Homo sapiens: one gene and its partners. The protein of the gene in region 1 purifies or fractionates together with the protein of each later gene. This does not show direct contact. Each region holds a gene or a part of one and is shown in the gene's direction. Other genes may lie near its edges. The genes, in order: OR2G6, UBL7 and PLAA.

Region 1 (3,655 bases):
TGTTGAGGAAAGTTCTATAGGTCTTCACAACATGTTTTAGGTGATATATAAGGAAGATAATTATACTGTAAACGACTGTGGATTACCATTCTTGACCTCATTACTTTCTATCCCCAAATATTAATCACTTAGTATTTGAAGCTGAAGAGTCCTGAAGCTGCAGGAAAAATGGAGGAAACCAACAACAGCTCTGAAAAGGGATTTCTTCTCCTGGGATTTTCAGATCAGCCTCAGCTAGAGAGGTTTCTTTTTGCCATCATTTTGTACTTCTACGTCTTGAGCCTTCTGGGGAACACTGCCCTCATACTAGTATGTTGTCTGGACTCCAGACTCCACACTCCAATGTACTTCTTCCTCAGCAACCTCTCGTGTGTGGACATCTGCTTTACCACCAGTGTTGCCCCACAGTTGCTGGTTACCATGAATAAGAAAGACAAAACCATGAGCTACGGTGGCTGTGTGGCCCAGCTCTATGTGGCCATGGGGTTGGGCTCGTCTGAGTGTATTCTCTTGGCCGTCATGGCTTATGACCGCTATGCTGCTGTCTGCCGGCCACTGCGCTACATAGCCATTATGCACCCCAGGTTCTGTGCGTCTCTGGCCGGTGGAGCATGGCTCAGCGGCCTCATCACCTCCCTAATTCAGTGCTCCCTCACTGTGCAGCTGCCCCTCTGTGGTCATCGCACACTGGATCATATTTTCTGTGAGGTGCCAGTGCTCATCAAACTGGCCTGTGTGGATACGACTTTCAACGAGGCAGAACTCTTTGTGGCCAGTGTAGTCTTTCTAATTGTCCCGGTGTTACTCATCTTAGTCTCCTATGGCTTTATCACTCAAGCTGTGTTAAGGATAAAATCAGCTGCGGGCCGCCAAAAGGCCTTTGGGACCTGTTCGTCTCACCTGGTTGTGGTCATCATTTTCTATGGGACCATCATATTCATGTACCTTCAACCGGCCAATAGGAGATCCAAAAACCAGGGAAAGTTTGTTTCTCTTTTCTATACCATAGTCACCCCACTTTTAAACCCCATTATCTACACTCTGAGAAACAAAGATGTGAAAGGGGCCTTGAGGACCCTGATACTGGGTAGTGCTGCTGGACAAAGCCACAAGGACTAGGAAACACCTGGAATTCTAAACAAGGGAAACACCTCAAGGCAGAGTGAGGGTTCATCCTCCCCAGACATTCCTCTTGTCAATCCCAAAGCCACAGGGACTAGGAAGCATTGGAATTCTAAAGAAGGGAAACACCTCAAGGCAGCGTGAGGATTCATCCTCCCCAGACATTCCTCTTGTCAATCCCAAAGCCACAGGGACTAGGAAGCATTGGAATTCTAAAGAAGAGAAACACACCAAAGCAGCATGAGGGTTCATCCTCCCAGACATTCCTCTTGTCAATCCAAGACCCTGTGTTCTATCTGGAAAAAAATGTTTGTCCTTCATCCACCTGCCATCAAGGTTCATGTATCCATTATTTCCTTCTAATGTGCCAGCCCATCTGATAGACTTCTACTAATGCTTCAAAACTCAGCTGAAATGTCACCTGCACTCACTAGCTGTCCTGAAACACCATCCTTCTCATCCTTGTGCAGAATTAACTGTTTCATAATATGTTTCCATAGCACTTGATCCACACTACCATTTCTACATTTCACATTTGAGATATATGTATACATATATCTCTAACTAGGCAAAGCAATGTATATAACAGACTGAAAAAATACATGACCATTTTCCCAGAATATGTCACTTTTAACTGGAGAATGGAACCATCCCACTCTATTGGCTTATTTACAACACGAGAAACACAAATATTAAGAGTTGTGATGCTTTGGTTCCACAGAATTGTGGGATGCAAATAATGACTAATATTTTATTAAAGGAATCAAATAAGCAAACTTGAATTAAGGAGATTGATTAAAAGTTGAGTAAAATTGCCATATACTAAAATGTGTTTTAACATTTATACAAAATTCATAAAATAAGTTATTGTTTTTGGCCTTAAACTCTGGAAAACAGTTACTTATGTAATTTTATACTTCAAAAATTTGAAATATGAATCCCACACACTGTCTCACGTTAACGATCATAGTTATATGTTTGGTTTCCAAAACAGCAAAAAAAATGAAATATTTAGAAGCATTTTAATAAATGTATTCTTATATTTGACCAAACTTTTACTTTCTGATTTAATTCTGTCTCTATCTCTCTGTGTATCTTTGTGTGTCTCAGCCTCTTTCTTGCTTTCTTTTCCCAAAACGATTGAACTTCATCAATTCGTCAACCTCAAGTATTTTAAGAGAACTGTGCAATTATAGAAAAAAGTGATTTAATCTGTGGTTGTAATTTTACTTCATATTCTCATTATGATACACATGAAAAAAGCATGAAAACATCAATGCAAATGAAGAGTAAAATGCAGGCAGAATCTGGGGTGGAAGTGGAATTTTCAAGTGATTTAGACTTTTCTTTTTTGGACAGGGTCTTGCTCTGTTGCCCAGGCTGGAGTGCAGTGGCTCAATCATGGCTCACTGCAGCCTTGACCTCCTGGGTTTAAGTGATCCCTCTGCCTCAGCCTTCCAACATTCAGATTTATAATAATTCATCCTGGTGTGAGAATATTGTAGCCTGTCTACGAATGTTAAGGATAACGTTTGGACCTGCCTCTCCTACCAAAGCCTGGACTGAAGGCAAAATGGCTGCGCACACAAGAACAAAAAGGCATCAGGAGAATTCACTAATGACTCAGGCTGCCTCTTCACAAATACCCTGTCCAGCTGGCACCTCTTCAATATACTTTTAGCAAACAAAATGATGAATATCCAATTTAACAAAAACGAGGGAAAAGAAGCCTGGTTAAATTTGTCTTCTAGGATATTCTTATGTGATTTTCCTCCTCCAGTAATGGAGAGGAGAGTTGGGAACTGAGCAGAACATGCTGAGGAGCACATGTTTTTATTTACAATATGCAAGTAGAGAAGTAGTTCTACAGGAAGCGTCACATGTACAAATGCATTATTCCTGATAACCCGAGCAACACAGCATAGGAAAGAATGTACCTGTGTCAGAGTCTCAATCAATTTACATGGAATATGGCCCCAGGGCAAAAGATGTGGCATTTAAAGGAAAGAAATAGCTCCAGGTGAAAAGACAACCATGTGTAAAGCAATGATATGAACACAATATGTAGAAAAACCTACATATGAATTGTGAAGCAACCATTTTCAAAGACAAACTCACATCCATTTAAGGTAATATGGAATACAAATCCCACTGAAAATAAAATCAAATTATTACTGTATACAATAAATTCAAACATAATTCAGAAAAAAATAGAATATCTGCTTATTGCTGAAATTAGCATCTTTAGCTGTAAGTTATTTGCACCCAAAAGGAAACCAGAAAATAATAGATATAACATAGGCAAAGCAACCTAAAAAAACTACTTAACTGCAGATGAAAATGGGAACACATTTGAAAATAAAATCCTGTTACTACTTTCTTGAATTTAGAGCTTTCCTATGATATGGATATGTTTATACTGCTTTTATAATCATCATACATGTATAATTTCATACTATTTTTATTTATAATGTGAGCATTTTTCTGATTAATCTAAAAAATATCCACCATTTATTAAAAATCTTCCCTATAA
Region 2 (3,655 bases), on another chromosome or scaffold:
GTGATTCTGCCCGCCTCAGCCTCCCAAAATGCTGGGATTACAGGCATGAGCCACCGCTCCTGGCCAACATTGTGAATTCTTTTTCTGAAAGAACAGAAGTTTGGGATGAGTTAGGAAAGGAGAAGTTGGTCAGGGGAGGCTCCTCAGTATATTTGAGGTAGGTCTTCAGGGATGATTAGAAGGATTTTTGCTTGGTTGACTGAGTAAAGGAAAGGCAGTAAAAAAGAAAAAGTGGCGTGGGCAGTCCAGGTGGAGGAGGGAGGAATTTAAATATAATTAAATTACACTGAAAAGGTAATTTTTAATAGCTAAAGGATCCAACTGGCAAGAAAGATGTTTTCAGTCATACCTGGATTGGGTTCATCCTATTTTGTTGTTTTTCCATTGATTTAAATTGGGCAGCCTCCACAATGTTAAACTCCAGAGTTTTTCTGTGGATAGATTCTGTGTGAATCCTTTTTTTTTTTTTTTTTTTTTGAGACGGAGTCTTGCTCTGTTGCCCAGGCTGGAGTGCAGTGGCGAGATCTCAGCTCATTGTAACCTCTGTCTCCCAGGTTCAGGCAATTTTCCTGCCTCAGCCTCCTGAATAACTGGGATTACAGGCCCGCACAACCACAACTGGCTAATTTTTGTGTGTATGTGTGTATATATATATATATTTCTTTTTTTTTGAGACAGAGTCTTGCTCTGTTGCCCAGGCTGGAGTGCAGTGGTGTGATCTTGGCTCACTGCAACCTCCGCCTCCTGGGTTCAAGCAATTCTCCTGCTTCAGCCTCCTGAGTAGCAGGGATTACAGGCGTCTGCCACCATGCCTGGCTAATTTTTGTATTTTTGGTAGAGACGAGGTTTACCATCTTGGCCAGGCTGGCCTTGAACTCCTGACCTCAGGTGATCCACCCACCTCGGCCTCCCAAAGTGTTGGGATTACAGGTGTGAGCCACCGTGCCCGGCCCTAATTTTCGCCATGGCCCAGGTTTCGCCATGTCGGCCAGGCTCCAAAAGTGCTGGGTTTATAGGTGTGAGCCACCACATCTGGCCAGATTCGATGTAAGTCCATTTTATGAGTTTATATTTGCAAATAGTTGTTGAAATGTATTTAATTGGCTAGGCATGGTGGTTCACGCCTGTCATCCCAGCACTTTGTGAGGCTAAGGCAGGAGGATCCCTTGAGCCCAGGAGTTAAGAGACTAGTCTAGGCAACATGGCAAAACCCCGTCTCTACAAAAAACTACAAAAATTAGCTGGGTGTGGTGGCATGTGCCTGTAGTCCCAGCTACTCAGGAGGCTAAGGTGGGAGAATTGCTTGACCCCAGGAGGTTGAGGCTGCAGTGAACCGTGATGGTGCCATTGCACTCAAGCCTGGGCAACAGAGTAAGACCCTGTTTTCCAAAAAAAAAAAAGTATTTGTTAAGTTATTGAATAAGAGTATCTTTTAAAACATGTATCATTCTCCAGCTATCTAATCAAAATAAGGTTCTCGGGACAAAAACCATGTAAATTTGTTTTGAGGAGCAAAATATAAGTGGACAGTTCTTTTTTTAGATCTGATCTACTGTGGTCGGAAGCTAAAAGATGACCAGACACTTGACTTCTATGGCATTCAACCTGGGTCCACTGTCCATGTTCTGCGAAAGTCCTGGCCTGAACCTGATCAGAAACCGGGTGAGTGAGGGGCAGCCCTTAGGCAGGCAGAGTTTCTGTAATATCCGCAAGGGAAGGATCTGTGTGTTCTTGAGGCACAAGCCTGGGTGGAACAAAGGGATGATTTACTGAGCTGATGATAAATGATATCTTTATTACTTATTGGATTAGACCATGCTGATAAACAGAGTCCAATTTTGACCTTCTTACTGCCGGCATCACTAATGGAAGATTTGTTTCTCCATTTTGTTTTTTGTTTTTTGGTTTTTTTGAGACAGTCTCACTCTGTTGCCCAGGCTGGAGTGCAGTGGCACAATCTTGATCTTGGATCACTGCAACCTCCGCCTCCCAGGTTCAAGTGATTCTCATGCCTCAGCCTCCCGAGTAGCTGGGATTACAGGCATGAGTCACCATGCCCAGCTAATTTTTTTTTTTTTTTTTTTTCTGAGACGGAGTCTCACTCTGTCTCACAGGCTGGAGTGCAGTGGTGTGATCTTGGCTCACTGCAAGCTCCGCCTCCCGGGTTCACACCATTCTCCTGCCTCAGCCTCCCAGGTAGCTGGGACTACAGGCGCCCACCACCAAGCCTGGCTAATTTTTTTTGTGTTTTTTAGTAGAGACGGGGTTTCACCGTGTTAGCCAGGATGGTCTCGATCTCCTGACCTTGTGATCTGCCCGCCTCGGCCTCCCAAAGTGCTGGGATTAAAGGCGTGAGCCACTGTACCCGGCCTTCAATTTTTGTATTTTTAGTAGAGACGGGGTGTCTCCATGTTGGTCAACCTGGTCTCGAACTCCTGACCTCAAGCCATCCACCCCACCTCAGCCTCCCAAAGTACAGGCACCATTCCTGGCTTGTTTCTCCACTTTCTAAGTTTGTCATCCACTGTTTCCTAATGGGACAGGGAGTTTGTGTCTACTTAAACTCCTTTAAGTTAACAGTTTATTTTTTAGTGATACAAAGTAAACTTTGTATCCTTTTGTTATTATCGTTGTTCTCATTAGAAAAAAGCTGGAAACTTTTGGCACTTTCCTAATGCTGCAGTTTATTCCCTTGTTAACAAATCTTCCTACAAACTGCCTCAGGTGGTGATTTGTTCAGTTAGCTAACTGCTCTTGCTATACTGGTATTTTCCTGAAGATATTCAAAGAGTATTTAAATAGCTCTTGGAGAAAATATACAAAGCCTCAGATGCCTTTTTGGTTTATAAATAGAAGGTGCTTGGAATTCATGATTTAAATTTTGCATGTGTGTTTTAAAAGCCTCCCTAAGAATAAAGCTAAGCTGTGTAAAAGAGATTAGCTTTGTTACACTGGCAGGTTGACATCTTTTTATAATGTTCATGATTGCTGTGACTAGTTATCAGTTTGAAATTTACCCCCCTTTCAGTTCTAACTGTAAAAGACAAAAATGTCTTTCATACCCTGATGGGAAGTGAGAAAGAGGAACAGAGTTCCTGACATCCAGAGGTTGGCCTGGCACTCACAGCCAGGCCCTGGAATCCTTTTGGGGATCATGAACAATTGTACAGATCCCCAGTAGCAGTCAAGGCCACTCTGAGACCACTATGGATTAAGACAAAAACAAGATCCCTATTATTGCTGAACAGAAACACAAAAACATGAGCATTATCCAAACCACAAAGGTGACCAAGTATCTTTCTATCTTGGCTGATGAGAGTAACAGCTGCTTCTTGGCCAATTACAGCTTCCACCTTGCTCTAGTTTTCCTTCCTTCTAGGTAAGAGTTATTAAGATACTCAATTATAAAATCACTCCCACTGCCTGAAAGCATCCTATCCAGAGTAAAACCTCACTTCTTTAAATTTTTCCCCAAATCAGCCAGACAAAACCAAAATCCTGTAAGAAGTCCTTTCTGGCCGGGTGCAGCAGCTTACGCCTGTAATCCCAGAACTTTGGGAGGCCGAGGTGGGCGGATCACCTGAGATTGGGAGTTCGAGACAAGCCTGACCAACATGGAGAAACCCCGTCTATACTAAAAATACAAAATTAGCCA
Region 3 (3,655 bases), on another chromosome or scaffold:
TGTAATCCATCCTTCATCCTCACCCCCATCCCCTAATGAAATACTAATTTTGCATCACATGCAGATGGGGGCTGTTAATCTTTATCTGCCAAAAACGAAGATTTTAGCACTGCACTTTGGAGAAAGTTTAAGTACTGTAATTATTAAAGAACACATCTGTGTTATGTTGTATATGTCATTAATATATGTGAACAGATAATAAGCATGTATCTCCTTTTTATATTCCTACTTTAGGAATTTGATTATGTTTTCTCAATTGATGTCAATGAAGGTGGACCATCATATAAATTGCCATATAATACCAGTGATGACCCTTGGTTAACTGCATACAACTTCTTACAGAAGAATGATTTGAATCCTATGTTTCTGGATCAAGTAGCTAAATTTATTATTGATAACACAAAAGGTCAAATGTTGGGACTTGGGAATCCCAGCTTTTCAGATCCATTTACAGGTAAGTTAGTGTTTATATTGAGTCTTATGTAGTTCCATTAGTGTTGATTGATTTTTTTGATGTTTTCAAATAGTCATGTGATTAGCTTTTTCAATAAATACCAATATCTACAGCAGGGTTTTACTTCACATTCATATGTTTAAGCCTCAAATGATGAAGTAATTCTGTATTTTACAGAAATAATAGTAAATTGTTGTCTTTCAAAAATACAATCATACTATAATGGAATTTCAGTTATTTGAAACAAAAATAAACTTGTAAGTTCTTTTATATAGTGTTTCTTTTAAAAAATTATATTTTGGCAAAATTTAGTAAATCTTTTTTTCACATGAGGCTAAATTGGTCAGTCATGCATCAAATCTAAAAGTGAACCCTATGGGTAGTTTTAGTTTATATGTGATGTGTATTCTACACGTTCATTTTAAGTTAATTGTTTGTAACATCGTATACATCGTATCTCATGTTATAAATGCAGTTAGGTGCTCATACCAGTCTGTAAATTGTAATCCTAATGGTACTAGTCCAAATTCTGGCCCCTAGGAAGTGGAATCTAATCCTAGTAATATTAACGTGAGTTCTGGAGACTGGTGTAGGAGGAAATAAAATGCCTCCTCTAAATAACATTTTGAGATAGGCACTTTACTGTTAATGTTTTCCTCTCATCATTTCTGACTCAACATTTTTCAGGTGCTAGTGCTCTTCCTTGTTTTACGAGGACTTTGTATTATATTCCTGTCTCAAATCCTTATGTAGATCCACCTTTTCTTCCCTGACAGCTACTCCACATTCCCAAATTATCTCCTCATTCTACTTCAAAATTTCATTGCCCATTCATAAAATAAAACTAATGTTACCTGCATGTTGATTTAAATAGAATTATCAGGCCAGGTGTGGTGGCTGACGCCTGTAATCCCAGCACTTTGGGAGGCCAAGGCAGGCAGATCACAAGGTCAGGAGTTCAAGACCAGTCTGGCCAACATAGCGAAACCCTGTCTCTACTAAAAAAAAAAAAAAAAAAAAATACAAAAAATTAGCCAGGTGTGATGGATGTGCGCCTGTAATCCCAGCTCCTTGGAAAACTGAGGCAGGAGAATCACGTGAACCTGGGAGGCAGAGGTGGCAGCGAGCCAAGATCGCACCATTGCACTCCAACCTGGGCGATAGTGCAAGATTCCGTCTGAAAAAAATCAAAAAATTTTAAAAAAAATTATCAAAGTAACTTACTACTGAATTACAGATGATCTGATCCTCCAAATACTTGCACTTAAAAAGAAAATAATTGTTTAGTATGTGGATATTTTTGTTGTTGGAATTTCAGACTGTAGTTCAAGAGTGAACACAGATTGTAGTACTGTGTAAGCTATTTTGCATGTGGGATACAGGAAAGGAATTAAAGCAGCTGACTTTGTCTGGAAATCTAGGAAGCACTTGGCTTGTTTTGCCCTTCTGAGACTCTTAACTTTTTCAGCATCCTTACTGTTTTTTGTTTTTTGTTTTTTGTTTTTTTTGTGGACAACCTGATTATTTCCCTAGAGGTACTAACAAAACATAGGCACATACGCCACACATTCGTAAATGTATAAATGGAAGTCTCTTTCCTTTGTAGTTTTCATCCCTTTTCTAATTCTCTTCTCCAGTAGGTTGTAAGCTTCAGTGGATATAAGCAATTTTGTTCCCTTCTGGATCCCCAGCCCTGAGTCCATTGTTTGACACATGAATTAATGAACCTAGAGCTCTAAATGATTAACATTTAGTGCCTGTGGTTTTGATAACAATAACAACAGCAGGAACTCTTGTGAATTTGTATAGGAACAGGGACAGGAATTGATTGTATGTTTATATATTTAGGTCAGATATTACCTGCAATTCTCTTTTGATATTTGAATTAAGTTTTAATATTTAAGTGCTGGGGCTAAGGTATAATAAAGCATTAAAGTTAAGAAAACAAAACTTGGAGAATCATTAAAATTTCAGTTTTTTCCCAGTTATAAGACTTCTGACTATAGTTTCTGTCATTCTATCATGTGAAAGTTTTGCTCTTCTGTTTTTCTCCAAATGTAGGTTCTTCTAAAACAAGCATTGTGCTGTTTGAAAAATTCAGAACTTTGGTGCACTTCTGCCTTTTCTTTATTTTGCATGCACAGGTGGTGGTCGGTATGTTCCGGGCTCTTCGGGATCTTCTAACACACTACCCACAGCAGATCCTTTTACAGGTGGGATGTAGTTTTGATTCATGTATCTTTCTTCACTAAATGTATAGCATCTTGCATCACATGGCTTTACATCTTGGAGATGTCATCCAGTAATTGGTAATTCCCTTATCTGCATTTCCAATTTTGATGGATTTCCTTTTCTTTAACTTCTGATTTTTGCTTTTTCCTGGAGTGGTTGTGTAGATTCCCTCGTGACTTTTAAATAGCATATTATTAGAATTCATTGTTTTCTCCAGGGGTCCTTCCCACCAGGAGAGCAGTATAGTTAAGAATATAGGTTTTAGAGTCAGACAAACCTTGGTTCAAAATTGGGCTCTACCACTTACTTGCTATGAGAAGTTGGCAAGTTACCTAACCTGTCTGAGCCTATTTTTTTTATCTGTGAAATTAGATAATAGGGGAACCCACCAACCAAGACACAGCATGAGTGCTATCACTGGCGAGATGCTACCAATCACGAGCAGAGAAGGAGCCATGTGAGCCCTGATATTGGATGGAGCAGTACAATCAAGAAGTCTCCCCAGGCATATTTTGACTTAACATGGAAGGAGACATTCCACCCAACTACCCAGGAGTAGTCTTCCTAATCTAAGTTATTAATGTCCTTCTTGAAGCCCTTGAAGTGTTGGTGTATCTCTTCAAAATGAATTTATTTACCAAGGTATGCATGCCTCAGCATCAACACTACTGGAAAAAGTGCCAGAGTTGGACTTTAAGGCAGCTGAAGAAGTCTCTATTTTCAGAATGGCTTTTGATATCTTGTATAATGCTGTTGTTGGATCTTCAGACAGAGTTCCTCGACAGTATACTCAGTTTGGGAAGAGATCATAGCGTTTAGGTATCCACTGGCCTTGCAGACTGGTACTGTGAGCTATAAAAATGACAACCTACAGTCCTCTCTAAGTCATAGAGATTGGACAAACATACAACGTTAGGTCAGCATCATGAAGTTGTGGATTGCTGTCCGTGAGCTTCCTTTTTCCTGTGA

Evidence for each region.
Region 2: the proteins of OR2G6 (region 1) and UBL7 purify together in Homo sapiens (affinity purification with mass spectrometry; one large-scale study listed by BioGRID and IntAct). This does not show direct contact.
Region 3: the proteins of OR2G6 (region 1) and PLAA purify together in Homo sapiens (affinity purification with mass spectrometry; one large-scale study listed by BioGRID and IntAct). This does not show direct contact.

Annotation. Positions count from the first base shown.
Region 1 is NC_000001.11:248,521,479-248,525,133, forward strand, and holds part of OR2G6 (olfactory receptor 2G6), read left to right. Parts: intron 1-132; 5' UTR 133-168; coding exon 169-1,119; 3' UTR 1,120-3,655. UniProt on the Homo sapiens protein: Odorant receptor.
Region 2 is NC_000015.10:74,454,559-74,458,213, reverse strand, and holds part of UBL7 (ubiquitin-like protein 7), read left to right. Parts: intron 1-1,542; coding exon 1,543-1,662; intron 1,663-3,655.
Region 3 is NC_000009.12:26,916,109-26,919,763, reverse strand, and holds part of PLAA (phospholipase A-2-activating protein), read left to right. Parts: intron 1-234; coding exon 235-454; intron 455-2,515; coding exon of another isoform or gene 2,516-2,598; coding exon 2,599-2,667; intron 2,668-3,058; coding exon of another isoform or gene 3,059-3,147; exon of another isoform or gene 3,148-3,655. UniProt on the Homo sapiens protein: Plays a role in protein ubiquitination, sorting and degradation through its association with VCP. Involved in ubiquitin-mediated membrane proteins trafficking to late endosomes in an ESCRT-dependent manner, and hence plays a role in synaptic vesicle recycling.